Homo sapiens: one gene and its partners. The protein of the gene in region 3 interacts with the protein of the main gene of each other region in a pairwise test. Each region holds a gene or a part of one and is shown on either strand. Other genes may lie near its edges. The genes, in order: RGN, SYAP1, THRA and TACC1.

Region 1 (7,404 bases), on a different chromosome or scaffold from region 3:
AGGTGTTTTACTGTATTTGTTCTGTGCGATGACCTTTCACTCACCTCTGTTACCTTCAATAGATCTCCCCTGCGACCATGTCTTCCATTAAGATTGAGTGTGTTTTGCCAGAGAACTGCCGGTGTGGTGAGTCTCCAGTATGGGAGGAAGTGTCCAACTCTCTGCTCTTTGTAGACATTCCTGCAAAAAAGGTTTGCCGGTGGGATTCATTCACCAAGCAAGTACAGCGAGTGACCATGGGTAAGGATGAAGGCTGGACTCAGATCAGCCAGCTACCTTTTCCCAGGGGAGGGGCGGTCACCACGGCACCCTTCTTGTTAAAGCACACTGACTACACTTGTCACGCTGTCTGTCCCCACTCCATATCCTCCCACTTTGACCCAGGGTTTAATTATGGATGGTCAATACTTTCCTCTTCCTCTTTGAATGAGGGGCAACATTCCTAGTTTTTTTTTGGGGGGGGGGGTGTTTTTGTTTATTTTTTGTTTTGTTTTTGTTGAGACAGGGTCTCACCGTGTTGCCCTGGCTGGAGTGCCATGGTGTGATCACGGCTCACTGCAGCCTTGATCTCCTGGGGCTCAAGGGATCCTCCTGCCTCAGCCTCCCTAGTAGCTGTGACTACAGGTGCGTGCCACTATGTCCAGCTAGTTTGTATTTTTTGTAGAGATGGTGTTTCACCATGTTGCCCAGGCTAGTCTCAAACTCCTGGGCTCAAGAGATCCACCCACTTCGACCTCCCAAAGTGTTGGGATTACAAGCGTGAGCTACCACGCCCAGCCCATTCCCAGTTTTGTTTGGATGCTGGGGCACTCTAGTTCCTGTCTTTCCTTAATACCTTCAGATAACCATGGAAAGTTAAAGACCCAGTTATCTGCCTTGGGTCAGGCCAAGACCTTAATTTTCAAACAAAACAAAACAAAACAAAAACAGGTGCCTCTCTTCCTTGAAAGTGAAAACTAGCTTTTGGATGTATAAAGCATCAACCAGGACCGTCTTTGTTTACTGCACAAAATAGAATTCATGATGGAATTTCATGTGCATTTGAGTGTGATGCGTTTATGGCCCTGCGAATTCTAAAGAAGGGATTTATCACTTTCTATGGCCCAAGGGAATAGGCTTAATGTAATTACTGATAGAGAAAGAAGTTTCTTGTTTTCACTGAGCCCATGGGAAAAAATATCAGGAATTCCTATAATCTTGGGACATTCTTTCTCAACCCAGAACTGGGACCTCAACTTTTTTTTTTTTTTTTTTTTTTTTTGAGACAAGGTCTGGCTCTGCCACCCAGGCTGGAGTGCAATAATGCAAACATGGCTTACTACAGCCTCAATCTCCCAGGCTCAAGCGATCCTCCCACCTTAGCTTCCTGAGTAGCTGGAACCACAGGCATGTGCCACCACACCTAGCTAATTTTTATTTATTTTTTGTAGAGACAGGGTCTCCCTATATTGCCCAGGCTGGTCTTGAACTCTTGGGCTCAAGCAATCCTCCTGCCTTGGCCTCCCAAAGTGCTGAGATTACAGGTGTGGGCCACCACGCCCAGCCTTAAACTTCTTTATTTTTAAATGAAAGGGAACAAATTTTTAATTCACCCAGAAGTATGACTGTGGTAAAGTGACTGTGACCTCTGAGGGTAGAATGGGGATGGGGTCCCCTTGCCTTTTCTAGTCTCTTTTGCAGCAGACACACATGCCAACCTGTGATCTGAAAAGCCCGCCCCCACCACCACCCGCCCCCAACCCATGGAAAAAGCTGTGGTGTCAGCAGTAGCTTAGAGAGCTACCAAGAGAAGTCTCAGGCTGCAGGTTGGGATCCCCAATGAGAGTGTGTCCTACACATTCCTTGGGACCCTTGATGGCTCCAATCAAAGTGTGAGCAGGGCTTTGAGCTAAGGGTGGCTCCTGAAGCTCCCATTATCTTACACTGAAGGGGTGCTTAGGAAATGCTTTCAAAATCTATTCTGATAAATTTATTTCCTGTGACCATTCACCACAGCAATCAATCTCTCCACTTAAAAAAATAAAATAAATTTAAAAAAAAAGCTTTCTTGGCCGGGTGCAGTAGCTCATGCCTGTAATCTCAACACTTTTGGGAGGCTGAGGTGGGTGGATCACTTGAGGCCAGGAGTTCAAGACCAGCCTGACCATCATGGTGAAACCGTGTCTCTACTAAAAATACAAAAATTAGCCAGGCATGGTAGCACAGCCTGTAGTCCCAGCTACTAGGGAGGCTGAGGCAGGAGAATCCTTTGAACCTGGGAGGCGGAGGTTGCAGTGAGTCAAGATCACGACACTGCACTCCAGCCTGGGCAACAGAGCAAGACTCCATCTCAAAAAAAAAAAAAGTTTTCTTATACATGGAAAAATATTAAATGAAGAAAACCTAAAATTTAAAAACATAAAATGTAGTAATATAATGAAGAGATGTGATTGTACTATCTCTGCATCTACATTCCTATCTGTTTATTATTTTTTACCATGCTTACTTCCAAAAAAGGATCTGAGAAACAATTTGCAATTAAATACATATAAAATAGGGCCCCTTAGAAAAGACGAATCCTGGGCCTGGCGTGGTGGCTCACGCCTAATATCCCAACACTTTGTGAGGCCAAGGCGGGTGGATCACCTGAGGTCAGGAGTTCGAAATCAGCCTGGCCAACATGGTGAAACCCCATCTCTACTAAAAATACAAATAAAAATTAGCTAGGCGTGGTGCATGCCTGTAATCCCAGCTACTCAGGAGGCTGAGGCAGGAGAATTGCTTGAACCCAGGAGGCAGAGGTTGCAGTGAGTTGAGATTGCACCATTGCACTCCAGCCTGGGAAACAAGAGCAAAACTCTGTCTCAAACAAAACAAACAAAAAAAAAAATGCAAATCCTGGATTGGAGAGGGAGAGAGATGTCACAAAACCTAGTTGCTGTAAATAAACTCGGTTTGTGTCTCTGAATTTTCTGGAGCATTTTCTGGCAAAATGGGGCATCACTCGCTCTGTGATGACTGTCCTGGTGCCCCTAGATTAGAAACTCCTCCTCTGAACTGGATGTGGCACCTGCCCCATATCATGGCCACTGGGCTTTCACTTCTCTGCTTTTCCCACAAGACTGGGAGCTTCCAGAGGAGTTGGGTTTTTTTCACATTTCTATCTATTGCTGCCCAGATCAGCACACAAAATTCATACTCAACAAATGTACTAGGTTACATAGCCTTCCCTACTCAACAGAAGGAAGAGAGCGCTCCCATTGTCACGAGAGCTGGGCTCCCGCTCTAAGAGATGCCAGGTAGCACAGTGATCTCAGTGGCCTCAGCCACTAAACTGGTACTGTTTTTTAACTGTTGCTTTACCTCTACAGATGCCCCAGTCAGCTCCGTGGCTCTTCGCCAGTCGGGAGGCTATGTTGCCACCATTGGAACAAAGTTCTGTGCTTTGAACTGGAAAGAACAATCAGCAGTTGTCTTGGCCACGGTGGATAACGACAAGAAAAACAATCGCTTCAATGATGGGAAGGTGGATCCCGCCGGGAGGTACTTTGCTGGTAAGATTTCTCTTAACACCTACTTATTACTGAGCCTTGGAGGAAATACTTTGACATACAAAGTTCTCACTACTGACCAGGGTGGTGGCTCCCGCCTGTAATCCAGCACTTTGGGAGCCAAGGCGAGTAGGTCGCATGAGCCCAGGAGTTCGATAACTGCCTGGGCAACATAGTGAAACCCTGTCTCTACCAAAAATACAAAAAATTAGCTGGGCCTGGTGGCATGCATCTGTGTTCCCAGCTACTCAGGAGGCTGAGTTGGAAGGATCATCTGAGCCCAGGAGTTTGAGGCTGCAGTGAGCCAAGATCGTGCCACTGCACTCTAACCTGGGTGACAGAGTGAGACCCGGTCTCGAAAAAAGAAAGAAAGAAAGTAAGTAAGTTAGTTAGTTCTCACTACCTCAAAAGTGTTATTTATAATGAATCTTGGGTTCTTCTTTTATTATTGCCTGAGTAAGTTGTAGGACAAAAAAAAAATTCTATGATAAAATCTTCATTTGCATTTCCATCTCTAGCAGAGACTAAAATCTGTATGGTATTTTGGTGGTTTAAATGAGTTTTAAATACAGGGGTTTTGTTGTTGATGTTTAAATCAGAAATATTTTCAAATTTACAGAGAAAAATAAGAATAGTACAGGCCAGGCGTGGTGGCTCACGCCTGTAATCCCAGCACTTTGGGAAGGCCGAGGCGGGCAGATCACGAGGTCAGGAGATTTGAGACCATCCTGGCTAACACGGTGAAACCCCGTCTCTACTAAAAATACAAAAAATTAGCCGGGCGTGGTGGGCGCCTGTAGTCCCAGCTACTCGGGAGGCTGAGGCAGGAGAATGGCATGCACCTGGGAGGTGGAGCTTGCAGTAAGCTGTGGTCGCACCACTGCACTCCAGCCTGGGCAATAGAGCGAGACTCCATCTCAAAAAAAAAAAGAATAGTACAAACAACACTTGTATACCTTTTACCCGGGTTCACCTATTGCTAACATTTTGTTCCATTTGCTTTATCATTTGCTGTCTGTATATATCTAAACATCTTTATCTCCAGAGTCCTTTATTTAAAAAAAAAATAGAGATGAGATCTCACTATGTTGCCCAGGCTGGTCTCAAACTCCTGAGCTCAAGTGATCCTCACACCTCTTCCTCCCAAGTGCTGGGATTACAGGTGTGAGCCACTGCACCTGGCCTATCTCCAGAATCATGTGAGAGTAGGTTGCATGTATATCCTATGTGCCTTTACCCCTAAAATGCTGCAGTGTGAATTTCCCAAGAAAGACGACATATTCTTACATGACCACAGTTACAGTGATCAACTTAGAGAAGTTTAGCATTGACACAGTCATTTTATCTGATATACTATCTAAATCCCAGTTTTGTCAATTGTACAAAAAGTGTTCTTTCTCACATTTTTCCCTCCAGCACAGGATGCAGTCTAGGCTCATGGATTGCATTTCCTTTTCATATCTCTTTGATCTTTTTTAAAACTGGAACATTTTCATAGCTTTTTTTGTTTGTTTTTTATAACATTGCCATTTTTGAAGAATACAGCCAGGCCTACCCAACTCCCCCTTTTTTAATAGGGCATTCCTTATTTAGTATTTGTCTAGTGTTTGTTTGTGATTAAGTTGATGTTATACATTCCTGACTGGAATACCGCATAGATAATGTTCTGTTCTCAGGGTAACCCATCTGGAGGTACACGATGTCCGTGTGTCCCCTCGTTAGTGATTTTGATCACCAGGTTAAGGCCCTGTCAGATTTCTCTACTGAATAACTATTTTTAATGCAATTTATAAGCAATTTGTGGGGGTTGTTAGTTATCTATTGCTGGATAACAAATTACCCTGAAACTTAGAGGCTTAAAATAAGAAATATTTATTATCTCAGATGGTTTCTGAAGGTCAAGAATCTGGGTGCAGCTTAGCTGGATGGATCCAGTTCAGGCTATCTCATAAGACTGTAGTCAAGCTTTCCACAGGGGCTGCAGCCTCGGAAAAGGCTGGATTCTCTGCAGAGGTCTGAAAGATCCACTTCCAAGCTCATTCACATAGGGGTTGGCAGGAGGCTTCAGTTCCTTAGCTGGTGGGTCTCTCCACAGGGCTGCTCAGGACATGGCTGCCCCTAGAACCAGTGATAACAGGAGAGAGAGAGAGAGAGAGAGAGAGAGAGAGAGAGAGAGAGAGAGAGAGAAAGAGAGAGAGAACGCATGCACCCAAGATCCAAGATGCAAGCTACAGTCTTTAACCAATCGGAAGTGACATACCATCACTTATGCCATATGCTATTGGTCACACAGACAATGACAGAGGGAACTATCCAAGGGTGAGAATGCTGAAAGGTGGGAATCATTAGGGGCTATCTTGGAGGCTGGCTACAACATGGGGAGATACTCTAAGTCCACACAAATATCCTGGTCCTCATCAAAATTTCTTCCTTAAGTTTTACATTCATTGATGATTCTTTCTTGAACCAAAGTTTACTATGATGGTTGCAGAATGACTTACATGCAGGTTTAAAAGAATTTTATCTACAGTTTTAAATTAGATACTGCACTTCACATATATTTCTCATCATAATAACCTTCTGAGTTAGCCGAAGTTGATTCTCCATCTCTACTATTCCCACCTTCCCACACTGCCGCCTCACATTGTTGGCCCTGCTGTCCTGGCCCTGTGCAACTTCAATATGGAAGGCAGGAGAGGTCAGAGCAGCTGACTGTAGACTGCTTCCCATCTTCCTGGACTTTATACAACCACAGATATGGTCCGGGACAGGTTGAAAGATTAAAGATGAGAATCTGTTGGAAGCCCTTCTGCAGTAATTTCTGCAAGATAAAGATATGTGATTGGATATTTCACCTCCTGGTGAAATTGATTTTCTCTCCTTCTTTTAAGTAGAAGTTGACAGTTCTGTGCTCGCTTCAGCAGCACATCTACTAAAGTTGGAACGATAGAGAGAAGATTAGCATGGCCTCTGCACAAGGATGACATGCAAATGCATGAAGAGCTCCATATTTTTCTTACAAAGTTTACAGTTCTGAGGCACTCTGTGAGACAAAAATAAAGATGGCCTCCAAGGCCTCCATTCTAAGCATGGAGTCTCTGGGCCATCAGGAGACCTCTTAAAATTGCAGGTGTCATTGTAGGTGTAACTATTAGGTATTACTATAGTATTCTATAGTACTAATACCAATACTATAATATTATACTTATAATAATATATAGTTTTACTTTATGTATTATCATATATAATTTTAAATTATATATTATAATATAGTATTATAATTATATAAGCATATATAATATAATCATATTATATATAAATATAATTATATATTATATAATATATAATACAACTATATATATTATATTAATATATAATATTATATTATATATAATTATAATATAATACTGTAGTATTCTGGCAGATGCATAACACTAGTACACTAGTATATACCTGTTAGGTATATACTAGTGCTATGCATCTGCCAGAAGCACCTGAGACTCTTTCTCAAGAGAGGTCATAGCTCTTGGCAGGTGCTCGGAGGTGCCCCAGGCCCAGAAAAAGGTGGGGTTATCTTATAGTCTAGATGGATTCTCAAGGTGATCGCACCCTGAATATATCACCACACCCAAGATCTGACCTGTCTATGCTTGTTACTAGATAATGAAGCCAGGGCTCTAGATTATTCTATCCACCAAGGAAGAGGCTTTCCAAGCAGCAGGAGATTCACATGCATGTTCCAGGCCTCTTTTTCTGTGAGGCAGATAATGTGCAGGGAGAGTCATGAAATAAACCCAACTGCCCTAGAGCAGGAAACTGCCGAGGGAACATCCTTCTCCCCAGGGAGGGAGGATCGACCCTGTCTTGCTTGCTA
Region 2 (8,344 bases), on a different chromosome or scaffold from region 3:
CAAAAAATACAAAAATTATCACGTGTGCTGGCATGCATCCCAGGGGAGGCTGAAGCAGGAAGGTCGCCTGAGCCCAGGAGGTCAAGGCTGCAATGAGCTATGACCGTGCCACTGCACTCCAGCCTGGACGACAGACTGAGACCTTGTCTCAAAAAAAAAATCAATTAATTAATTTAAAAAAATAAACACGACCAGGCATGGTGGCTCACCCCTGTAATCCCAGCACTTTGGGAGGCCGAGGTGGGTGGATCACGAGATCAGGAGATCGAGACCATCCTGGTTAACACGGTGAAACCCCGTCTCTGCTAAAAATACAAAAAATTAGCCGGCCGCGGTGGCGGGTGCCTGTAGTCCCAGCTACTCAGGAGGCTGAAGCAGGAGAATCTCTTGAACCCGGGAGGTGGAGGTTGCAGTGAGCCCAGATCGCGCCATTGCACTCCAGCCTGGGCGACAAGAGCGAAACTCCATCTCAAAAAATAAAATAAAATAAACACAATGGAGTTTCTCCCCACCAAGGATGAAAGAACAGTGTTGTGGAGGAAGCAGTAAGGAACTTGGAACAATGATGTCAATTTCTGGGAAAATAAGCAGACGCTTCACTCAGCAGGGTAGCCTTGGGGGAGATCCAGGTCTCCATGGGTGTTGGGGGGTCCAGGGGAGGGACAAGGAACCACCTTGTCAAAAGGCTAGAGGCATAAACAAGTCTTCCAGAGGGCTCAGGGGAAAGAATGTTTGTGAAATGGGTTGGTATGGGTGCTAATACTTAATACCTGCCGCATATGTAAGGTTTCCTTCCACAGTTCCGTCTTTCATTATCTTTTTAGAACCAGGACAGTTGTTATGATCCCCTTTTTAGAATGAGGGACCTGAGGTTCAGAGATGTGAAATGTCTTGACCAAGGGTACGTTAGTTAATATGAGTGGCAAAGCCAGGACATCAATGCACAGCCAGACTCCACCACAGGATGTGAGGCCTGATCCAATTGTCCTATTCTATTCATCCATGAGGCTAATGGATAAAAGATAATCTGTATATACAAAGGGCTCATTATAATAACTATTGTATTATTAATCTCAAATGGGAAAAATAATGAGCTGGAAAACAAATTTGATAACAGGGTGTGGATTGACTGAATTGTGTGGGATAAGGATGTATCCTCATTCAACAAGTGTCAGTTCATGGCCCACCACCAGCATAACATCTTGCTGAATCCGCACAAGATGATTTTTTTTTTTTTTTTTTGAGGTGGGGATTCATTCTTGTCGCCCAGGCTGGAGTGCAATGGCATGATCCCAGCTCACTGCAACCTCCACCTCCCGGGTTCAAGTGATTCTCCTGCCTCAGCCTCCTGAGTAGCTGGGATTACAGGCGCCCACCACCACGCCCGACTAATTTTTGTATTTTTAGTAGAGACAGGGTTTTACCATGTTGGCCAGGCTGGTCTCGAACTCCTGACCTCAGGTGATCCACCTGCCTCGGCCTCTCAAAGTTCTGGGATTACAGGCATGAGCCACCGTGCCTGGCCAGATGATTTTTTTAAAATGAAAATGAAGCCCATCATTAAGTTGATTGCTTATGTTCTTGTTTTGTAATCTTTTTTTTTTTTCTTTTTTTCAGTCGGGGTCTCGCTCTATCACCCAGGCTGGAGTGCAGTGGCACGATCACAGCTCACTGCAGCCTCCAGCTCCCAGGCTCAAGCAATCCCCCTGCCTCAGCCTCCTGAGTAGCTGAGACGACAGGTGCAAGCCACTACACCCAGCTCATTTTTTATTTTTTGTATAGACAGGGTCTCGTTATGTTGCCCAGGCTGGTCTCAAACTTCTAGACTCAAGCAATCCTCCCACCTCGGCCTCACAAAGTGCTGGGATTACAGGCATGAGCCACTGTGCCCAGCCTAATCTCTTATTTTTAAGAATTCTACCTTTCAGAAGAGTTGTAAAACTGTCTATCCCTTGGTGACCACAGTGTTCACCACGATTTTGAGTGTACCTTAAGATAAAGCAGAGTAAGGCTGAAAGGGCTGGGCCCTATCTCTGCTGTGGGAAGGACCAGCACTATACTTCTTTTGCAAGTGAGGGAACTTGAGGGGCAAAAGGATGAGTAAAACGTCAAGTTTAGGCCGGGTGCGGTGGCTCACTCCTGTAATCCCAGCACTTTGGGAGGCCAAGGTGGGTGGATCACCTGAGATCAGGAGTTCGAGACCAGCCTGGCCAACATGGTGAAACCCCGTCTCTACTAAAAATACAAAATTAGCCAGGTGTGGTGGCAGGTGCCTGTAATTCCAGCTATTTGGGAGGCTGAGGCAGGAGAATTGCTTGAACCCAGGAGGCAGAGGATACAGTGAGTCGAGATTGTGCCACTGCACTTCAGCCTGGGCAAGACAGAGTGAGACTCCGTCTAAAAAAAAAAAAAAAGTCAAGTTTATTCACCTACTAGATGGTGGAATTAGAAGCCCATCCTAGGCTTCTCACTCAAATTCCAGGCTCTGTTCAATCATACTTGAAGCAAATATCCTATTCCCGAAAGTCTCAACCACTTTCAGGTTCTCATTGACTTAATAAAGCCTAGAAAGGCATTGATCCTAAGACATCTCCTGACTTCAAAGCTGAATCAATACTTGGACTCTAAAAACAGGCTGGAATGTCATCAATGCCACTGAACTGTACACTAAAAAAAATTTATTTTTACTTCAATTTAAAATATTAATAGTGTAATACACCAAAAATATATACCATTGAATTGTACACTTTAAACAGGTGAATTGTTTAAATCTCAGCTGTTTGGGGGAAAGAAAAAAACAGGTTGGGCTTGATAACCTAAAATCCTGGACCTGAATAAAATATAAATATAAGTCAGGCTGGAAAACTGGACAGCAGGGAAATCAGAGTTGTAATCAATTCCTCATGTATTCCCTCAGGTCACCGGAACTGTCCTCCTCTTCTCAAAATAGTTGGGGAGCAAGGAATCATGGATGTCCTTCCACAATTAATGACTGAAGACTGTGCTTGGGAAATGTGTCCATGAACTCCCTGCTCTGAAGGGGTAGTTATGCACATCACTAGTTTTTTGTTAGTTTTACATGTTATTGTGGGAAAAGTTAAAAATATAAAAAAGACAAATGTTTAACTACCCAGCTTCAACCCATGGCCAGGCTTGTTTCATCTATATCCCCCCCCATTCCCCCCACCCCCATCCTGTATTAATTTGAAGCAAATTCCAGACGTGGCATCATTTCTTTTTTTCTTTTTCTTTTTTTTTTTTTTGAGACGGAGTTTTGCTCTTGTCATCCAGGCTGGAGGGCAATGGCAGGATCTCAGCTCACTGCAACCTCCGCCTCCTGAGTTCAAGTGATTCTCCTGCCTCGGCCTCTCGAGTAGCTGGGATTACAGGCGCCCGCCAGCACACCCAGCTAATTTTTTGTATTTTTAGTACAAACGGGGTTTCACCATGTTGGTCAGGCTAGTCTCAAACTCCTAACCTCAGGTGATCCACCCATCTCGGTCTCCCAAAGCGCTGGGATTACAGGCGTGAGCCACTGCGCCTGGCCCAGATATGGTATCATTTCTTTGGTAAAATCTCAATATGTGCGGTGGATAAACAGATGGATAAACAAAACGTGGTGTATACATACAAGGGAATACTATTCACTCTTAAAAAGAAATTGACACAGCCTTGAGGACATTATACTAAGTGAAAGAAGCCAGTTACAGACAAATACTGAATGATTCCACTTATATTAAGGTATCTAGTCAGATCCATAGAGACAAGAAGTAGAATGGGGGGAGGAGGGGGATGACAAGGACAGGAATGGGGAGTTGTTTCATAGGTAGTTTCAGTTTTGCAAGATGAAGTTCTATTTTTCTTTTTTCTTTTTTTTTTTTTTTTGAGAATGGACTCTGCAACCTCTGCCTCCCGAGTTCACGCCATTCTCCTGCCTCAGCCTCCCTAGTAGCTGGGACTACAGGCGCCCGCCACCACGCCCGGCTAATTTTTTTCTATTTTCAGTAGAGACGGGGTTTCACCGTGTTAGCCAGGATGGTCTCGAACTCCTGACCTTGTGATCCTCCCGCCTCGGCCTTCCAAAGTGCTGGGATTACAGGCGTGAGCCACCGCACTCGGACTATTTTTCATTCTTTTAATTGCAAGATGAAGAGTTCTGAAGATTGATTGCTCAACAATGTAAATGTACTTAACAGTACTGAATTGTACACTTAGAAACGGTTAAGATGGTAAATCATATTAAGATGGTAAATTTTGTGTATTTTACCACAATTAAAATTTTGTAATTTCACAATTCCTTAATTTTATCAACTACCCAGTGTCCAAATTTCCAGTTCTTATAATAAGTATCATACTATTTTTTTCAATGTGTTTGCTGAATTAGGATCCTAATAAAATGCACAAGGGGCCATGTGTTACATCTCTTAAGTCTTTTTTAATCTATAGGTTCCCCACCACACTCCTCTCTTCCTTGCAATTTATTTGAAGAAACAAGGTTGTCTGTCCTGTGGCTTCTCATAGTCTAGATTCTGCTGACAGCATCCCATTGTGTTGTTTAACACCTTATTCTGTCCTCTTATTCCCTGTTGGGCTTGGCGGCTTTGGGTTAGTTTTGAATTGGGCTCAGGAGGAGGCTAAAGACATCCAATTCTGCGGGAACGCAGCCCTGCGGGACCTGAAAAGGCGAGACTAAGTCACCAGCCAAGCTGCCTAGAGGCAATCTTAAAATGGGACTGGCTAGGACTGTGACAAAGACACCGTCCACATGCCTACTAGGTCAGTCACCTACAAAGCTGGCGAATGAGGAAAAGAGGGAAGGCAGGGCTACGCTGGGAAAGCTCTTTGTCCCCTATCCACGCGCACAAAACAGTTGTCACAACTGACGTCACCAGGGGCGGAGCCTTTGGACGGAAGTGACGCTTGCGCGGCCGCGGCGGAGTCGTCATAGAGGCGGGGCTGCGGCGGCTGCGGTGTTCCTCCGACTTCCGGACATCTCCCTGGGAGTCGCGCAGAGTGGAGTCAAAGGCAACCAGTGCTCGCTGCGGTCTCTGGGGATCGGGACCGCGGCGGCGGCCCGCGAGCGGGATGTTCCGGGGCTTGAGCAGTTGGTTGGGCTTGCAGCAGCCGGTGGCAGGCGGTGGGCAGCCCAATGGAGATGCTCCACCCGAGCAGCCGTCCGAGACGGTGGCTGAGTCTGCGGAGGAGGAGCTGCAGCAAGCGGGAGACCAGGAGCTCCTCCACCAGGCCAAAGACTTCGGCAGTGAGTCTACCCTGGCTCTGGGACCGGGAAGGGGGGGGCGCATTCCTCCTCTGGGACGGCCCTGGGGCGCGGGCCCGACTGGCTGGGGGATGAGGGGGCCGAGGTGGGAGGCAGGGGAGGAAGATGTGTCTGTCGGTCAGTCCTCTCCGGGTCGGGAGAGATTGGTGAGGATCTGGACGAGGCCAGAGCTTCATCTAGCAGTCAGGTCCTGTCCCTGAAGTTCCTGGTGACAAGTCTACAAAGTTTGCAGACATTGGAATCAGGTATGCAGTCAAGCAGTGTGACCCGACGTCTTCAGGTTTGACAAGGAATCTTTTTTGTTCAACTCGAAAACCTTCATTTACACCCCCCAGATCGGGGATAGTTGGCGAGCTTGAATTGGTTGAAAAAATAATTTTTTGCCCCTAGGTCAGAACGTGTTGTCTGAAGTAAACTGACAGTTACTGAATGTCAATGTCTGCCCCGGTCAAATGCTTTTTAGGTACAGAGACCTTTTTCCTTAAGGAGGGAGAGAAAATGCCAACTGTCTGCTATACGCAAGTTGCAGTACTAGATGTTTTATGAAAGATATCCCATTTCATCTGTTAAACACCCCCAGTGAGTTGGGGGAACAAGCCCAGAGTTATTGGGCCAAAGTTATACTGATAGTGAGTGGTAGAAGTGGAATTTGAGCTTCGATCTTTCTCATTTTAAAGCCCGTGCTCTTTCCAAGTTTACAGTCTACAGGGGTTGGGGGACAGGTGATAATAGACGTGGAGTAAACACATGCTGTAGTAATTCTCATTTCTGGAGAGACCATGGTGGGCTTCAGTGATCACAGAAAGCATCTTTGAGGCCGGATATGGTGGCTCAGGCCTGTAATCCCAGCACTTTGAGAGGCTGAGGTGGGCGGATCATGAGGTCAGCAGTTCGAGACCAGCCTGGCCAACACGATGTAACCCCGTCTCTACTAAAAATACAAAAAATAGCCGGGCGTGGTGGCGGGCACCTGTAATCCCAGCTACTCAGGAGGCTGAGGCAGGAGAATCGCTTGAACTGGGGAGGTGGAAGTTGCAGTGAGCTGAGATCGCACCACTGCACTCCAGCCTGGGTGACAGAGCAAGACTCCATCTCAAAAAAACAAAACAAAACAAAACAAAAAAGCATCTTTGAGGAGGTGAGCCCTAAAGCAGCCCAGCACTACAAGTGAGAGAACTGCAACAAAGGTAGATACTAAGTTCAGCAACATTTGAAGAATCTACTAAAAGATGGGGGTGGGGGGATGGGGGTGGAGACAGGGATGTGGGAGGAGAGCAGCCTGAGAGTAGATAAACACATATTTGAGTAAGAAAGGGCCGAACAGTTTTTCTGGAGACAGGGTCTCACTCTGTCGCCCAGGCTGGAGTGCAGTGGCACGATGTTGGCTCACTGCAACCTCCACCTCCAGGGTTCAAGTGATCTTCCTACCTTATCCTCTCCAGTAGCTTGGATTACAGGCATGCCCTACCACGCCCAGCTAATTTTTGTATTTTTAGTAGAGATGGGGTTTCGCGATGTTGGGCAGGCTGGGCCCTAACGTTTAAAAGTTTACTGTGGGATGAAAGGACAGGGAAAACAGACATAATCTCAAACCATGACAGTGTATAATCTCAGCCCAAGGCCCCCAGATAGAATAGTCTTGCTCTGTCGCCCAGGCTGGAGTGCAATGGCACGATCTCGGCTCATTGCAACCTCCACCTCCTGGGTTCAAGCAATTCTCCTGCCTCAGCCTCCTGAGTAGCTGGGACTACAGGCACACGCTGCCACACCTGGCTAATTTTTTTTTTTTTTGTATTTTTAATGGAGACAGTGTTTCACCATGTTGGTCAGGCTGGTCTCAAACTCCTGATCTCAAGTGATTCACCCACCTTGGCCTCAAAGTGGTGGGATTACAGGCGTGAGCCACCGTGCCTGGCCCCTCTGAATATTTTCTAATAACTGCATTTTTCATATGGATGTGTACTTTGGAGCTAATGCTGCCATCTTTCTGCTCACCAGATTCTCTTTTGATATTTACGGAAGCTGAGGTTAGATGGAAGTACCCACAAACACACACACATTGTGAATTTAAAGCTTCAGAATAAATGAGAATTCTTTCTTTTCTGAAATTTATGTGATTTTAGAAAGTCGTAAAGGTTCTAGTTCATATACAAACTGTGAGAGACAAGAGAGATGATCAGATATTTTTTATTTCTACATATTGATCCTAAGAAGTATATTGTCTTTAAGAAGACCCATTTATGTTTTGAAAACTGGAATTAAACATCTGTGAGCCTGACTCCCAGAGTAGATTCATTTCTTAAGTCTTTTGAAATCTACATAAAATATCAGCCGGGTGCGGTGGCTCACGCCTATAATCCCAGCAGCTTTGGGAGGCCAAGGCAGGCAGATCACGAGGTCAGGAGATCGAGACCAGCCTGACCAACGTGGTGAAACCCTGTCCCTACTAAAAATACAAAAATTAGCTGGGCGTGGTGGTGCGCGCCTATAATCCCAGCTACTCAAGAGGCTGAGGCGGGAGAATCGCTTGAACCCGGGAGGCGGAGGTTGCAGTGAGCCGAGATCGCGCCACTGCACTCCAGTGTAGGTGACAAAGTGAGACTGCATCTCACAAAAAAAAAAAAAAAAATCTCCTGGGAGCCCCATTTGTTCTGCATATATTTGTTGAGTGCCTACCTTCAAGACTGGACACTAAATACTTCCTGGTTCCTGGTGACCTATTTATACATTCAGGCAACTCACCAGTTAGTGGTGGACACCCAGGCCTGCATTCCACTCCCTCACTCAAAACCAAACCTCCTGGTCTCCTGATTCTTGGCCCTCCCTCCTGATAAATTTACAACCTCCGATTGTCACTGTCTCCAAAGGAAGGAACAATTTATAGGAGAACTCACTTAAGAGCTCCTCCCTACCTCCCTCAAGGCCCCATGCCGTTAAGTTGGTTAGTTGGTTTTTGTTAAAGTCAACCAAATTAAAGCTTTGCCTCTACTCTTTCTGAAAAAAATAAATAAATAAAAAGAAAATCTGTACTTCTGAGAATGTTAAATATCTGAATCAGTCACACAG
Region 3 (7,404 bases):
TCAGGAATTTGAGACCATCCTGGCCAACATGGTAAAAGCCTGTCTCTACTAAAAATACCAAAATTGGCCAGGTGTAGTGATGTACGCCTGTAATCCCACCTACTTGGGAGGCTGAGGCAGGAGAATCTCTTGAACTTGGGAGATGGAGGTTACAGTGAGAGTGGAGATTAAGTCAGTGTACTCCAGCCTGGGTGACAGAGCGACAGAGTGATACTCTGTCTCAAAATAAAAAAAAAAAGAAACAGAATGATTTATATGTTAAAGGCCAGGTATAGTAGCTCACGCCTGTAATCCAAACACTTTAGGAGGCCAAGGTGGGAGGATTGCTTGAGCCCAGGAGTTTAAGAACAGCCTGGGCAACATAGTGAGACCCTGTCCATACAAAAAAATTTTTAAAGTAGCCAGGCATGGTGGTGCACACACACCTGTGGTCCCAGCTACTCAGGCAGCTGAGGTAGGACGATCACTTGAGGCTGGGAGGTCGAAGCTGCTGTGAGCTGTGATTAAGCCATTGCACTCCAGCCTGGGCGACAGAACAAGACCCTGTCTTAAAAACAAAAAACAAACAAAAAAAAAAAACGGAAAAAAAGTTTAAGGCTTGAAGTTTCTCTCTCTTTCTTGATGTCAACCAAACCAAGACCATGAGGGATTTAGAGTTCCCTAGCAGAAGCAATACAATCCTTCTGGAAGCAATACAAACAGTGTAGCATAGAGAAAGGATCTTTTACTCTCACGGACATCTGAGTCCCAGGGAAGCACCCTGAAAAGACAGAGATGCCTTGGCCCCACCCTTGGATAGTTTTATTTTGTAGTTCTGGAGTGAGGCCCAGGAATCTGTATCTTTGGTAGGTGCCTTTGGTGACTTTTTTTTTTTTTTTTTTTTTTCAAGACGGAGTCTCACTCTGTCACCCAGGCTGGAGTGCAGTGGCGCGATCTTGGCTCACTGCAACCTCTGCCTCCCAGGTTCAAGCACTTGTCCTGCCTCAGCCTCCTGAGTAGCTGGGATTACAGGTGCCTGCCACCTCACCTGGCTAATTTTTTGTATTTTTAGTAGAGACAAGGTTTCACGATGTTGGCCACGTTGGTCTTGAACTCCTGACCTCGTGATCCACCCACCTCAGCCTCCCAAAGAGCTGGGATTACAGGCGTGAGCCACCGCACTCGGCTGCCTTTGGTGATTTTAATGCCCCTGGAATCTGAGAGCTCAGACGTTGGTGTCCCATACCTGAGGCCCAGTTCTGACTCTGCTGCCCACCGGCCACATGACTTTGGGCAAATTGCTTCATCTCACCAAGCTTCAGTTTCCTTGTCTGCAAAGTGGAGGCAGTAACAGTTCCTACCTCATAGGGTTGTCTGGAGGGTTCACTGTGATGTTCCATGAAAGACAAGGCTTATCTTTTGGGTTTTTGTTTTTGTTTGTAATGGGGTCTCTGTCACCCAGGTTGGAGTGCAGTGGTGCGATCATAGCTCACTGCAGCCTTGACCTCCTGGTCTCAAGCAATCCTAAGCAATCCTCCCACCTCAGCCTCCAGAGTAGCTGGGATTATAGGTGCACGCCACAACCCCTGGCCAATTTGTGTATTTTTAGTAGAGATGGGGTTTTGCTATGTTGGACAGGCTGGTCTTGATCTTGAACTCCTGGCCTCAAGTGATCTGCCTGCCTCAGCCTCCCAGAGTGCTGGGATTACAGGTGTGAGTCATTGCACCTGGCCAGCAAGGCTTATGTTTACTAAGTGACTGACACATTGTAAACATGAAAAAATACTAATTCTTCATATTATTGCAATCATCTTGAGTTTTGAGGTGTTTCCTTTAAAATAAAGGCGAGGCTGGGTGCGGTGGCTCACGCCTGTAATCCCAGCACTTTGGGAGGCCGAGGTGGGCAGATCACCTGAGGTCAGGAGTTCGAGACCAGCCTGGCCAACATGGTGAAACCCCATCTCTATAAAAATACAAAAATTAGCCGGGCGTAATGGTGGGCACCTGTAGTCCCAGCTACTCGGGAGGCTGAGGCAGGAGAATTGCTTGTACCTGGGAGGTGGAGGTTGCAGTAAGCTGAGATCACACCACTGCACTCCAGCCTGGGTGACAGAGTGAAACTTCATCTCAAAAAGAAAAAAAAAATTAAATTAAAAAAATAAAATAAAGGTGAATCCCAATGTAGAGAATTGAAATTTTTCTCTTCCCCTACTAGAGTTCATACTCAGTCCCTTTCCTTGACTTTTTTGGTTCCCCTGTTTTATGAATTCCACCTGCATGGACAACAGGCAACATATATGAGAATGGTTTTTGGGTCAGTGTTGTTTTTAAAGTCATTTAGCAAAATGGAAAATGAGGTTTTACTTGGATTTCCTTTTTTTTTTTTTTTTTTTTTTTTGAGACAGAGTTTTGCTCTTGTTGCCCAGACTAGAGTGCAATGGCACAATCTTGGCTCACCGCAACCTCTGCTTCCTGGGTTCAAGCAATTCTTCTGCCTCAGCCTCCCAAGTAGCTGGGATTACAGGCATGTGCCACCATTCCCGGCTAATTTTTTCTTTTTTTTTTCTTTTTTGAGATGAAGTCTCACTCTTGTCACCCAGGCTGGAGTGCAATGCGAGCTCCACCTCCTGGGTTCAAGCGATTCTCCTGCCTCAGCCTCCCGAGTAGCTGGGATTACAGGGGCAGGCCCAGCTAATTTTTATATTTTTAGTAGAGATGGGGTTTCACCATGTTGGCCAGGCTGGTCTTGAACTCCTGACTTCAGGCAGTCTGCCCGCCTGGGCCTCCCAAAGTGCTGGGATTACAGGCATGAGCCACCGCGCCCGGCCAAGGGGTGGACCCCGCCGTGGTTCCACCGCGGCTCAAACCTAGGACCTTCTGCATGTAAAGCAGATGTGATAACTGCTACACTATAGAATCGCATGCTTTTTTTTTTTTTTTTTTTTTTTTTTGAGATGGAGTCTCATTCTGTCACCCAGGCTGGAATGCAGTGGCGCGATCTTGGCTCACTGCAACCTCTGTGTCCTGGGTTCAAGCAATTCTCTGCCTCAGCCTCCTGAGTAGCTGGGATTACAGGCGCCCACCACCACGCCCGGGTAATTTTTTTTTTTTTTATACGGAGTCTTGCTCTGTCACCCAGCCTGGAGTGCAGTGGCGCGATCTTGGCTCGTGGCAAGCTCCACCTCCTGGGTTCACGCCATTCTCCTGCCTCAGCCTCCCGAGTAGCTGGGACTACAGCGCCCACCACCATGCCCGGCTATTTTTTTTGTATTTTTAGTAGAGACAGGGTTTCACCGTGTTAGCCAGGATGGTCTCGATCTCCTGACCTTGTGATCCGCCTGCCTCAGCCTCCCAAAGTGCTGGGATTACAGGCATAAGCCACCGCGCCCGGCCTACGCCCAATTTTTATACTTTTAGTAGAGACAGGGTTTCACCATGTTGGCCAGGGTGATCTTGAACTCCTGACCTCATGATTCATCCGCCTTGGCCTCCCAAAGTTCTGGGATTATAGGCATGAGCCACTGCACCCAACCTCATGCCCGGCTAATTTTCTATTTTTAGTAGAGACAGGGTTTCTTCATGTTGGTCAGGCTGGTCTCGAACTCCCGACCTCAGTTGATCTGCCCACCTCGGCCTCCCAAAGTGTTGGGATTACATGCGTGCGCCACCGCGCCCGGCGACTTGGATTTCCAAAGCTGCTATTCCTTAAGGCCTCACATTATCCCAGGTTCAAAGCTGCCTGCTCTAGACATCATTCCTGCCTCTGCCACAAACACTACCCAGACACCCCCAACCCCTCAGCAGCCTGGGGGCTGAGGGCATATATTTCTCAGGTCCTTGAGCCTAGTAATCTTGGGCTCATGGTGTCAGGAGGATGCCAGGTCCCCTCACTGATCTTGCCTTCCTTGCTCTCCACCCCTGACCCCTAGTAAACTGCATGGTTGGTTCAGGAAGGGGAAGCCATGTCATGATCACAGCCTGCTCCATCTCCCCCACCCCAGGGCTTCTTTCGCCGCACAATCCAGAAGAACCTCCATCCCACCTATTCCTGCAAATATGACAGCTGCTGTGTCATTGACAAGATCACCCGCAATCAGTGCCAGCTGTGCCGCTTCAAGAAGTGCATCGCCGTGGGCATGGCCATGGACTGTAAGGGGCCCAGGTGGAGGGAATAGAGCCAGGTGGCCTGGGGTGGGGATGAGTTCTGGGAGGGCAGCTTCCTTCCAGGGTACCCTCAGAGCCCACAGGGCAGAGTGGCAATCCAGTCTAGGTCAGAATGTTCAGTGTCTTGGTCCTTGCTGTCCTCCTTCCTGCGCAAAAGGAAACAGGATCCCTGTGTGGGCCCCAATGCCTACCTGCCTTACAACACTCGAGGGCCTTAGAGAGGGAGTCGTTTGGTAGAAAGAGCTCCTGGGCACCCACTCTAGCACACTGTTCTTGACTCCCAGCGAAGGCACCCCACTTCTAGATGAGACAGGGCATCTTCCATTGGCTGGGGATTGGGTGGCAGGATATTCGAGTAACCACCGTCACCATAATCCGTTAGACCAGAACATGATATTCATCTGGATCAGCCCAAACTGTTGTTGACATGGTCCCGGGGATTAATCATGATCCGGGTTGTGCTGCCCAACTGCTAGGTGATTTGGGAAGTCATTTAGCCTCCATGGCCCTCGGTTTCTCCAACCTGTACTCTAGGAAGAGTAGTTTCCGGGAGCATTATGGAAAGGGGATGGAGGGTGCCATGCGTTAGACCTTGTGCCTCTCTGTTCACAGTGGTTCTAGATGACTCGAAGCGGGTGGCCAAGCGTAAGCTGATTGAGCAGAACCGGGAGCGGCGGCGGAAGGAGGAGATGATCCGATCACTGCAGCAGCGACCAGAGCCCACTCCTGAAGAGTGGGATCTGATCCACATTGCCACAGAGGCCCATCGCAGCACCAATGCCCAGGGCAGCCATTGGAAACAGAGGCGGAAATTCCTGGTAAGGAGAAAGGGGGCATGGGGAGAGCAGTAGCCAGGTGGCAGGGAGAAGAGAGTGAGCTCGGAGTCTTGCCTCCTCCAGGAAGTCTTCTTAGTGTAATCCAACCCAAAATACATACTCTTCACACTTTTGCTGTCCAGATTTTATACACTTGTGTTTGTGTCCTTGCTGTCTGGACTGTCTACTCCATCCAACTGGGAGCTCAATGAGGACAGGGCCTTGCCTTCCTCATCGAATTTCCAGGGAGCGGGAGCGACCTTTCTTCTTTTTCCTGCCCTTAGTGACTGGGAGGAGAGGGTAAGGATACAGTTATGTCACAGTATTTTTGAGCACCTGCTGGGTGCCAGGCATTATGTTAGGCCCTGGTCAAGCTAGTTGCTAAGTAAATGATGAGTTTGGGACCAGGTGCAGTGGCTCATGCCTGTAATCCCAGCAATTTGTGAGACCAAGGTGGGAGGATCGCTTGAGCCCAGGAGTTTGAGACCAGTCTGGGTAACATACAGAGATCCCACCTCTATGAATAATTTTTTTTTTTTTTGATACGGAGTCTCACTCTCACCCAGGCTAGAGTGCAGTGGCACGATCTCGGCTCACCGCAACCTCCGCCTCCTGGGTTCAAGCGATTCTCCCGCCTCCGTCTCCCGAGTAGTTGGGATTACAGGCACTGGCCACCATGCCTGGCTAATTTTTGTGTTTTTAGTAGAGACAGGGTTTCACCATGTTGACCAGGCTGGTCTCGAACTCCTGACCTCAAGTGATCCACCCGCCTCGGCCTCCCAAAGTGCTGTGATTACAAGATGTGAGCCACCATGCCCACCCTCTATGAATAATTTTTTTTTTTTTTTGAGTTGGAGTTTCGCTCTTGTTGTCCAGGCTGGAGTGCAGTGGCACAGTCTTGGCTCACCGCAACCTCTACCTCCCGGCTTCAAGCGATTCTCCTGCCTCAGCTTCCCAAATAGCTGGGATTACAGGCGTGCGCCACCACGCCCGGCTAATTTTGTATTTTTAGTAGAGACGGTGTTTCTCCATGTTGGTCAGGCTTGTCTGAACTCGCAACCTCAGGTGATCTGCCTGCCTTGGCCTCCCAAAGTGCTGGGATTACAGGTGTGAGCTACTGCTCCCGGCCTCTCTACGAATAATTTTAAAATTAGCTGGGCATGGGGGTGTGTGCCTGTGGTCCCAGCTACTCGGGAGGCTGAGGCAGGAGGATCCCCTAAGCCTGGGAGGTCGAGGCTGCAGTAAGCCATGATTACACCGCTGCACTCCAGCCCAGGCAACAGAGCAAGACCCTCTCTCAAAAAATATGATCAGTTTGGGAGGAGATGGACAGTTGGCTATACGTGGTGAAGGAAGGCAGAAAACCAGCACCTGGTTCATGGTGGAGCATGCCGGGGGGTGGCACAGTGCACACTGTTAAGGGCACGGGCTCTGATTCCAAGCAGATGTGTAACAGTCACGAGTCAGACTGCCCAAGTTCAAACCCTGGTCCTACCACTTGCTGGTCATATGACTTTAACCTTATTATTTAGCTGCCCCATGCCTCAGTTTCCACATCTGTGAAATGGTGATTATTATAATTATTCCTTTTAGGATTATGGTCAGGATGAAATAAGACATGTAAAACATGTAGCCTGATGCCTGATCATATATTAAGTATTCAGTCATTATAGCTGCTACTACTGTTACTACCGTTGTTATTATTAGCTGACTTGGAGCTCTGGTTCTGGTCTATTCTCTGCTCAAGATGAAGGAAAAGCTTTGGGCCTGGGACTCAGGCACGGGCGGCCCCTCTTCCCCAAGCTGCCTTGGAGCTCCCCCTGGTGGGCAGGGAGCCTCAGTGAGAGGCTGAAAGGGGTCTGCGGCCCCAGCTGACCCCCGTCTTTCTCTCTAGCCCGATGACATTGGCCAGTCACCCATTGTCTCCATGCCGGACGGAGACAAGGTGGACCTGGAAGCCTTCAGCGAGTTTACCAAGATCATCACCCCGGCCATCACCCGTGTGGTGGACTTTGCCAAAAAACTGCCCATGTTCTCCGAGGTGAGTGGCAGAAGTGGGGAGAGATGTGATGCTGTGCTGGAGGGAAACCTGCTCCCCCGGTCACCCAGTACAGGCTCATCTGAGGTTCTCTGGACAAGGAGCAATTCCTGTAGGTCAACATACACAGATAACATACACAGACACACACACACACATGCATACACATACACCCAGCACACAGGCACACATGCAGACACATACACGGACACACACACACACCTAGCATACAGATACGTACACAGACACACATACACACACACATACACCCAGCACACAGACACACACACACCTAGTACACAAACACACACACAGATACATAGAAACACACACAGACATATACACCCAGCACACAGACACACACACACACACAGACACACACCCAGCACACAGGCACACACACACACA
Region 4 (7,404 bases), on a different chromosome or scaffold from region 3:
CAGGCTGGACGCAGTGGCTTATACCTGTGACCCCAGTGCTTTGGGAGACCAAGGCAGGCAGATTGCTTGAGCCCAGTGAGACCAGCCTGGGCAACTTGGCTGTCCTGTCTCTACATAAAAAATAAATTAAAATAAAAATTAGCCAAGCTTAGTGGCTCATGACTGTGGTCCCGGTTACTTGGGAGGCTGAGGTGGGAGGATCACTTGAGCCTGGGGAAGTCAAGGCTGCAGTGAGCCATGATCAGGCCACTGCACTCCAGCCTGGGTAACAGAGACACTGTGTCAAGAAAAACAAAAATAAAAACTATAGCTATGATATTCCAGTGGTACTTGACTCTGATCCTGGATTAGGATTAGGAAGTAGGATTAGAGGGTCATCTTTTAATTTCCTTTAAAATCATGAGATATTATAACCAATTCACTGAGTTTTTCTGTGCTACTCTTGTTTCAGATATCTACGTTAGGAAATCACTTTTTGCTTTAACGAAATTACCTCATTCACACCTTCCTAATATTTGCAGCACTTATCCTAGTAAGACCACAATTAAAAAGGATTTTTATTTTTCACAAGTGATTTAGAGAATTCCTGGTCCGACTTAGAGACAGAGGTTCTAAAGAAAAAATAACTTTATTGTTTTACAATTTGTGTCTTAGTAAAATAAGGGCTATTTGTTTTAAAGCCATTTCCATATCTGGTTTTTCAAATTAGCTTTCTTATTTGGTTCTTTTAGTTTTTAGGTCTACAGAGAGATGATTCTGAGCTGGTCACAGTAGATTTTTTAAATTTATTTTTGAAACAGTCTTTTTAAATTCTGTTCTGTGGATACATGGCTTTTTTTTTTTCTTCTTTTTTTTTTCTTTGAGACAGAGTCTAGGCTGGAATGCAGTGGCGCAATCTCGGCTCACTGCAGCCTCCATCTCCCGGGTTCAAGTGATTCTCCTGCCTCAGCCTCCTGAGTGACTGGGACTACAGGCGTGTGCCACCATGTCTAGCTAATTTTTGTATTTTTAGTAGAGATGGGGTTTCACCATGTTGGCCAGGATGGTCTCAATCTCTTGACCTCATGATGTGCCCGTCTTGGCCTCCCAAGATACTTATGTTTTTAACATTCAAAGATTCAGATCTGTTCACTGCATAAAGTTCTGACCCTGAAGCTGTCAGGCTGTGCTTAGGAACTGTCTCAGCACCAATCTGCCTCCCTGCACCATAGCTGTTGGTTTCTAAATACTCCTCCAGACCAGTTTTACCCTACAGAATGTTAACATCACATAATAATACATTGCAGCAGACTCTTGCTCTATTTATCCTTTTTCTAAATAGCTCTTTTGGTGTACTTACTATTCGTATCACTTGGATAATGCACATACACAACTTGGGATAGGAAAATTCATTTTAGGGTGTTGTGCCAGCTCTTCTCTTTCAGGCTGTGCTGCCATCCTTCCTGAACTTTAGAGATGCTTAATAAAAGCAAAGAGGGAAGAACTTGCTATTTGTTTATATGAATTCAGGTAAGAGAGGATACTTACCAGTGACAGATAATTCTTTAATAGATGGTTTTTGTGTTTCATTTTAGAATCACAAGAAGCTGATGAACAGCTTGTAGCAGAAGTGGTTGAAAAATGTTCATCTAAGACTTGTTCTAAACCTTCAGAAAATGAAGTGCCACAGCAGGCCATTGACTCTCACTCAGTCAAGAATTTCAGAGAAGAACCTGAACATGATTTTAGCAAAATTTCCATCGTGAGGCCATTTTCAATAGAAACGAAGGATTCCACGGATATCTCGGCAGTCCTCGGAACAAAAGCAGCTCATGGCTGTGTAACTGCAGTCTCAGGCAAGGCTCTGCCTTCCAGCCCGCCAGACGCCCTCCAGGACGAGGCGATGACAGAAGGCAGCATGGGGGTCACCCTCGAGGCCTCCGCAGAAGCTGATCTAAAAGCTGGCAACTCCTGTCCAGAGCTTGTGCCCAGCAGAAGAAGCAAGCTGAGAAAGCCCAAGCCTGTCCCCCTGAGGAAGAAAGCAATTGGAGGAGAGTTCTCAGACACCAACGCTGCTGTGGAGGGCACACCTCTCCCCAAGGCATCCTATCACTTCAGTCCTGAAGAGTTGGATGAGAACACAAGTCCTTTGCTAGGAGATGCCAGGTTCCAGAAGTCTCCCCCTGACCTTAAAGAAACTCCCGGCACTCTCAGTAGTGACACCAACGACTCAGGGGTTGAGCTGGGGGAGGAGTCGAGGAGCTCACCTCTCAAGCTTGAGTTTGATTTCACAGAAGATACAGGAAACATAGAGGCCAGGAAAGCCCTTCCAAGGAAGCTTGGCAGGAAACTGGGTAGCACACTGACTCCCAAGATACAAAAAGATGGCATCAGTAAGTCAGCAGGTTTAGAACAGCCTACAGACCCAGTGGCACGAGACGGGCCTCTCTCCCAAACATCTTCCAAGCCAGATCCTAGTCAGTGGGAAAGCCCCAGCTTCAACCCCTTTGGGAGCCACTCTGTTCTGCAGAACTCCCCACCCCTCTCTTCTGAGGGCTCCTACCACTTTGACCCAGATAACTTTGACGAATCCATGGATCCCTTTAAACCAACTACGACCTTAACAAGCAGTGACTTTTGTTCTCCCACTGGTAATCACGTTAATGAAATCTTAGAATCACCCAAGAAGGCAAAGTCGCGTTTAATAACGTGAGTGACAGTGGGCGCTGGGTGTCGTGCTCTGTGTCTTGTCTGTTGAGTTTGGCAGCCAGCTACTTTTGGCTTTGGTGAACTGAATTTACCTTTGAGGTGCACCGAGGTTCATACAAAGCTTATAATGTTATCCTGCAGTCTTCACTGTTTGGCTTAACTGTTGTGTGGAATCAGAAATACCAGAGGTTTCCTTTTCAGATTGTTGTCTTTTTTCTGAATCCTTAGCTTAATCAGCTAAGCTCTTTTCCCTTGACCCTAGAGACTTTTTTATGTTTAAAAAAAATAGACCAGTCACGGTGGCTCACACCTGTAATCCCAGCACTTTGGGAGGCCGAGGCAGGTGGATCACTTGAGGTCCAGAGTTTGAGACCAGTCTGACCAACATGGTGAAACCTGTCTCTACTAAAAATGCAAAAATTAGCTGGGCGTGGTGGTGCACACCTGTAGTCCCAGCCACCCGGGAGGCTGAGACATGAGAATTGCTTGAACCCAGGAGGCAGAGGTTGCAGTGAGCCGAGATCACGCCGCTGCTCTCCAGCCTGGGTGACAGCAAGACTCCATCTCAAAAAAAAAAAAAGAATGGCATGAGATAGACAGGTAGAGATTTGATGGTTTTCAGAAATCCTGGCTGGACTGTTAGGAGTCGTGTTATAGACAATTCAAATGTCACTGCTGGCCACCGTCTTCATACTCTATGGATAAAACAGAAATTCCAGTCCTGTAACTTACCTCTGTAGCGTCAATAACGTGGGAAATGATCCAAAAGGGTCTTGTAGAAAGAAGACTTTTTACATAAACAGAAAGCTGTGATTTTTGTGGGAAACAAACCTACCACTAAAATTGATGAGAATTCTTGTCTCCATGTGTAATTTCTGGCTCATCAGCCAGGAGGTAAAATTTCAATAAGAATCAAGAATATTTTAAATGATCAGTTAAAACTGAGTAAATTAGTTGGTTTAGTCAATCCCCCATCTCTCCTGGGAAATTATCTGACTTTTGCAAGGTCCTTGGTGTTTTCAGTGTAATTACCTAAGGTCCTATTCCATATCAAGTTTCAGTTTAACTTTGCTACAGGATTACTTTATCACAAAACTTGAGTAGATGATAATACAATCATACATCACTTAGCCACAGGGTAAGCCACAGGGAAATGCATCCTTAGGTGATTTTGTTGTGTGAACATCGTCAAGTGAACTTACTCAAACCTAGGTGGTGAAACCTACTACACACCTAGGCTATATGGTACAGCCTGTTACTCCTAGGCTACAACCCTGTACAGCACATTATTGTACTGAATAGGTGCTAGGTGTGGTGGCTTACACCTGTAATCCCAACACTTTGGGAGGCCAAGGTGGGAGGATCCCTTGAGGCCAGGAGTTCAAGACCAGCCTGGGCAACATAGTGAGACACCCCCCCACACACACCGATTCCCTGTCTCTTAAAAAAATTTTTTTTAATTAGCTGGGAGTGGTGGTGCATGCCTGTAGACCCAGCTACTCAGGAGGTTGAGGCAGGAGGATTGCTTGAGCCCAGGAGGTTGAGGTTGCTGTGAGCCATGATTATGCCATTGTACTCCAGCCTGGCTGGCAGAGCAAGACCCTGTCTTTAAAAAAAAAAAAAAAAAAAAACTACTATAGGCAGTGTAACACAATGGTAAGTATTTGTGTATCTAAACATATCTAAGCATAGAAAAGGTACAGTAAAAATATAGTATAAAAGATAAAAAATAATACACCTGTATAGGGCCCTTACCATGAATGGAGCTTGCAGAACTGGAAGTTGCTCTGAGTGAGTCAGTGAGTGGTGAGTGAATGAGAAGGCCTTGGACATTACTGTACACTACTGTAGCTTCTATAAACACGGTACACTTCAGCTATGCTAAATTTATTTAAGTTTTTTTCCTTCAATAATAGATTAAGTTTAGCTTACTGTAACTTTTACTTTATCAACTTTTAAATTTTTTAAGAAGTTTTGACTCTTGTAATAAAACTTAGCTTAAAACACAAACACATGGTACAGCTATACAAAAATATTTTCTTTATATACCTATTCCATAAGTTTTCTTTGTGTAAAATTATTTATTTGTTTACTTTTTAAAATTTTTGTTAAAAACTAAGACACAGACACACACATTACCTAGGCCTACCCATTACCTAGGCCTACTCAGGATCGTCAGGACATCACTAGACAATAGTTTTTCAGTTCCATTATAACCCTACGGGACCACCATCGTATGCATGACTGAAATGTCATTACATGGCACCTGACTGTATATCCTTTTGTGGCCCTAAAAAGGGCCACATTTTACTAAAAAGTTTGAGTAAAATGTAGATATAAAGAAGGACCAATGAGATGCAGGATGAAATATGGGAGTATGAGAAGCACTGTGTTTGTACTTGTCACTGTAGATCAGTTGGGGAAATGCTTCTCAGCATTGCTATGACTTAAAGAAAAACTCCAGATATCATGGTGACTTACAGCAGAAAGGAAGACGCCCAGAGGTTTAAAGAGCAGAAGGATCAACTTCAGTACCAAGAAAGTAGAGAGATATAGGAACCAGTTCCTCAGCAGCCCCGGAATGGCTAAGGGGAGTGAAATGTCATTAGTAGCTCTCGATCTGTTCTTTGATTATATATAAGCAGTTAAATGGTTGTTGGAAAATATTATTGATTGGGTGCCCTCTTTTGTGGCTTTTAAGGTTGGTTACTCCTCTCTAGACAGCACTTAGGGTATGTACTGGGCACGTCACTGCCTAGGTACTTCCTCCCCTAAATGTGGGATGCTTCTGCATACTGAAGTTGATAAGGAGTCATTTGTGAGTCTTTGAGTTGCATGCAACCAATGCATTAAATAAGATGAAATCTGGGCCAAAGAAAGGGTAATTTATTCTACACTTTATATTCGGCAGCAAGAAGCACCGTCTCTCGAGTCCTGCCACCCTCACCCAGTAGCCTTTTTCCCCTATTCTGTTTTTGTTGAATGAACTTCTTGATCTAATACACTTAATAGGGCTTTTTTTAAGGCCTTATGCAATCAAAAATCTTGTCGTCTTGTTCTTTTTAGAAGAAAGGAGTGCTAGACCTCTTGGAAGTTTATTTTTCATCTGTAAATTTGAATTTGTGGCATTTCTGAGTGTTTCTACCAGTCTCCTTTGTAGTTGAGGTCTGTTCATCATTCACTCACTGGTGATAACATTCATGAATACGACATTTTTAATTTGTATCTCACCTCATAGAAAGAATTGTGCAGCTTTTACATCTGCCAGACTAGAGTTGAATATTCCAGTCTTTACATGATTTTTTTCTCCATCTGTCTGTCTCTTTCCTGTCTCTAATTTTGTTGGTGCATCAGGACTACTGAACAAGTGAAATTTCTCTGTTTTCTGTTGTAAGTACTCCTGCTGTTTCTTTAGTCCCTGGGACCGTTGGCAGTTTCCTCTCTCCCCTCCCCCAGCCATCTCTCCATAGCATGTTTGCTTCTAATTCTGAGTTTGATCTTCTGATGATTTTTTTGCATTTCATCAGTCACTTCATGAGTCAGCTTAGCCTTGCAGTTGTCCATACCTAAGGGAGTGGGGCTTGGCCTTTACACCTTAGGTGCTAGAGCTTGCACTCCCTGGCTTGGCAGGTGTCACGTGGCGCTTTGACAATACCAAAAGCTGGCTTGGCCCCAAGATCATCACAGCAGTGGTTTGAGGGACTGTTCTGCTATTTAATATTGGAAATCATTGGCTTTTTTGGTAGCATAAAGCTACTGGCTTGGAACAGTTAATAAATTTTACTGAGTCAGCTCAACTTGAGTTTGGTGGCAGAGGGTAGCACTCAGTAAGAAGATTAGGGAAAGAAGATCATGAACTAGTGATTATGCACATTCCGGTAACTTATGTGCTTGTCTTTGTATTTTTTCTCACAAAAGAAAAAAAGTTGCAAATAATTTTTTCTCTTTTTTTGGTCACAGTGGTGTTTTTCCTGGAAATTCTAAGTTTATTAGAACAGAATCTGAATTAGTCCTGTGATCACAAGTTGTGTGCTAATCTACAAATAACAGATGGTTCAAGCTTCCCCAGTTTCAGGCTTTGTGCAGCGTGTGACATTCATCTTCCATCTTACTACTTAATAGGAATGGTAACAGTTTACTCACATATTTTTACTTTTATACTTTTTATTGATGACAGTTCTTCTCTGTGAGCACACAAGTCTAACTGGAACTGTTTTATGAGACGTCTATGGCTTTTAGTGCAATAAAGAATTTTTAAAGAATTTGGTCCAGCGTGATGATTTTTCTAATGAATGTCAAAGCCAAGCGAGTGAGGCTCAGAGGAACTGAATGTCTCCAGCTGCTAAGGCTCTACTGTCTGCAAAGCTTTTGGTGGCGTGTAATTAAAAACCATAGACATCAGAGTGCTACTGTTTGACAACTCATAGAAGCAAGCTGAGGGGGTCTTTTCAGAGAATGAGCCCCGCTTGTAGGTCTTTGCTTACCCCGTCTCTCTGGAGAAAACTCAGAGGCATAAAAGGTGTCCCTGCCTCTCTCCTGCGGCGATGTATGATTTGTGTGGTGCTGTATGCTTTGGCTTCTATCCGCACACACTGCTGTCTGCTCCATTTCATACCTTGACAATTGTCAGTGTGATTGCAAACTGGCTTGTTTGTGTTTCTTCTCTTTCCAGGAGTGGCTGTAAGGTGAAGAAGCATGAAACTCAGTCTCTCGCCC

Evidence for each region.
Region 1: the proteins of THRA (region 3) and RGN interact in a two-hybrid assay, tested with the Homo sapiens proteins (one study listed by BioGRID).
Region 2: the proteins of THRA (region 3) and SYAP1 interact in binary tests that used the Homo sapiens proteins (3 or more experiments, as listed by UniProt).
Region 4: the proteins of THRA (region 3) and TACC1 interact in binary tests that used the Homo sapiens proteins (3 or more experiments, as listed by UniProt).

Annotation. Positions count from the first base shown.
Region 1 is NC_000023.11:47,081,068-47,088,471, forward strand, and holds part of RGN (regucalcin), read left to right. Parts: intron 1-62; 5' UTR 63-77; coding exon 78-240; intron 241-3,350; coding exon 3,351-3,533; intron 3,534-7,404. UniProt on the Homo sapiens protein: Gluconolactonase with low activity towards other sugar lactones, including gulonolactone and galactonolactone. Can also hydrolyze diisopropyl phosphorofluoridate and phenylacetate (in vitro). Calcium-binding protein.
Region 2 is NC_000023.11:16,714,640-16,722,983, forward strand, and holds the start of SYAP1 (synapse-associated protein 1), read left to right. Parts: upstream 1-4,972; 5' UTR 4,973-5,085; coding exon 5,086-5,260; intron 5,261-8,344.
Region 3 is NC_000017.11:40,079,855-40,087,258, forward strand, and holds part of THRA (thyroid hormone receptor alpha), read left to right. Parts: intron 1-3,980; coding exon 3,981-4,128; intron 4,129-4,755; coding exon 4,756-4,961; intron 4,962-6,852; coding exon 6,853-6,999; intron 7,000-7,404.
Region 4 is NC_000008.11:38,817,948-38,825,351, forward strand, and holds part of TACC1 (transforming acidic coiled-coil-containing protein 1), read left to right. Parts: intron 1-1,574; coding exon 1,575-2,688; intron 2,689-6,042; coding exon of another isoform or gene 6,043-6,078; intron 6,079-7,360; coding exon 7,361-7,404. UniProt on the Homo sapiens protein: Involved in transcription regulation induced by nuclear receptors, including in T3 thyroid hormone and all-trans retinoic acid pathways. Might promote the nuclear localization of the receptors.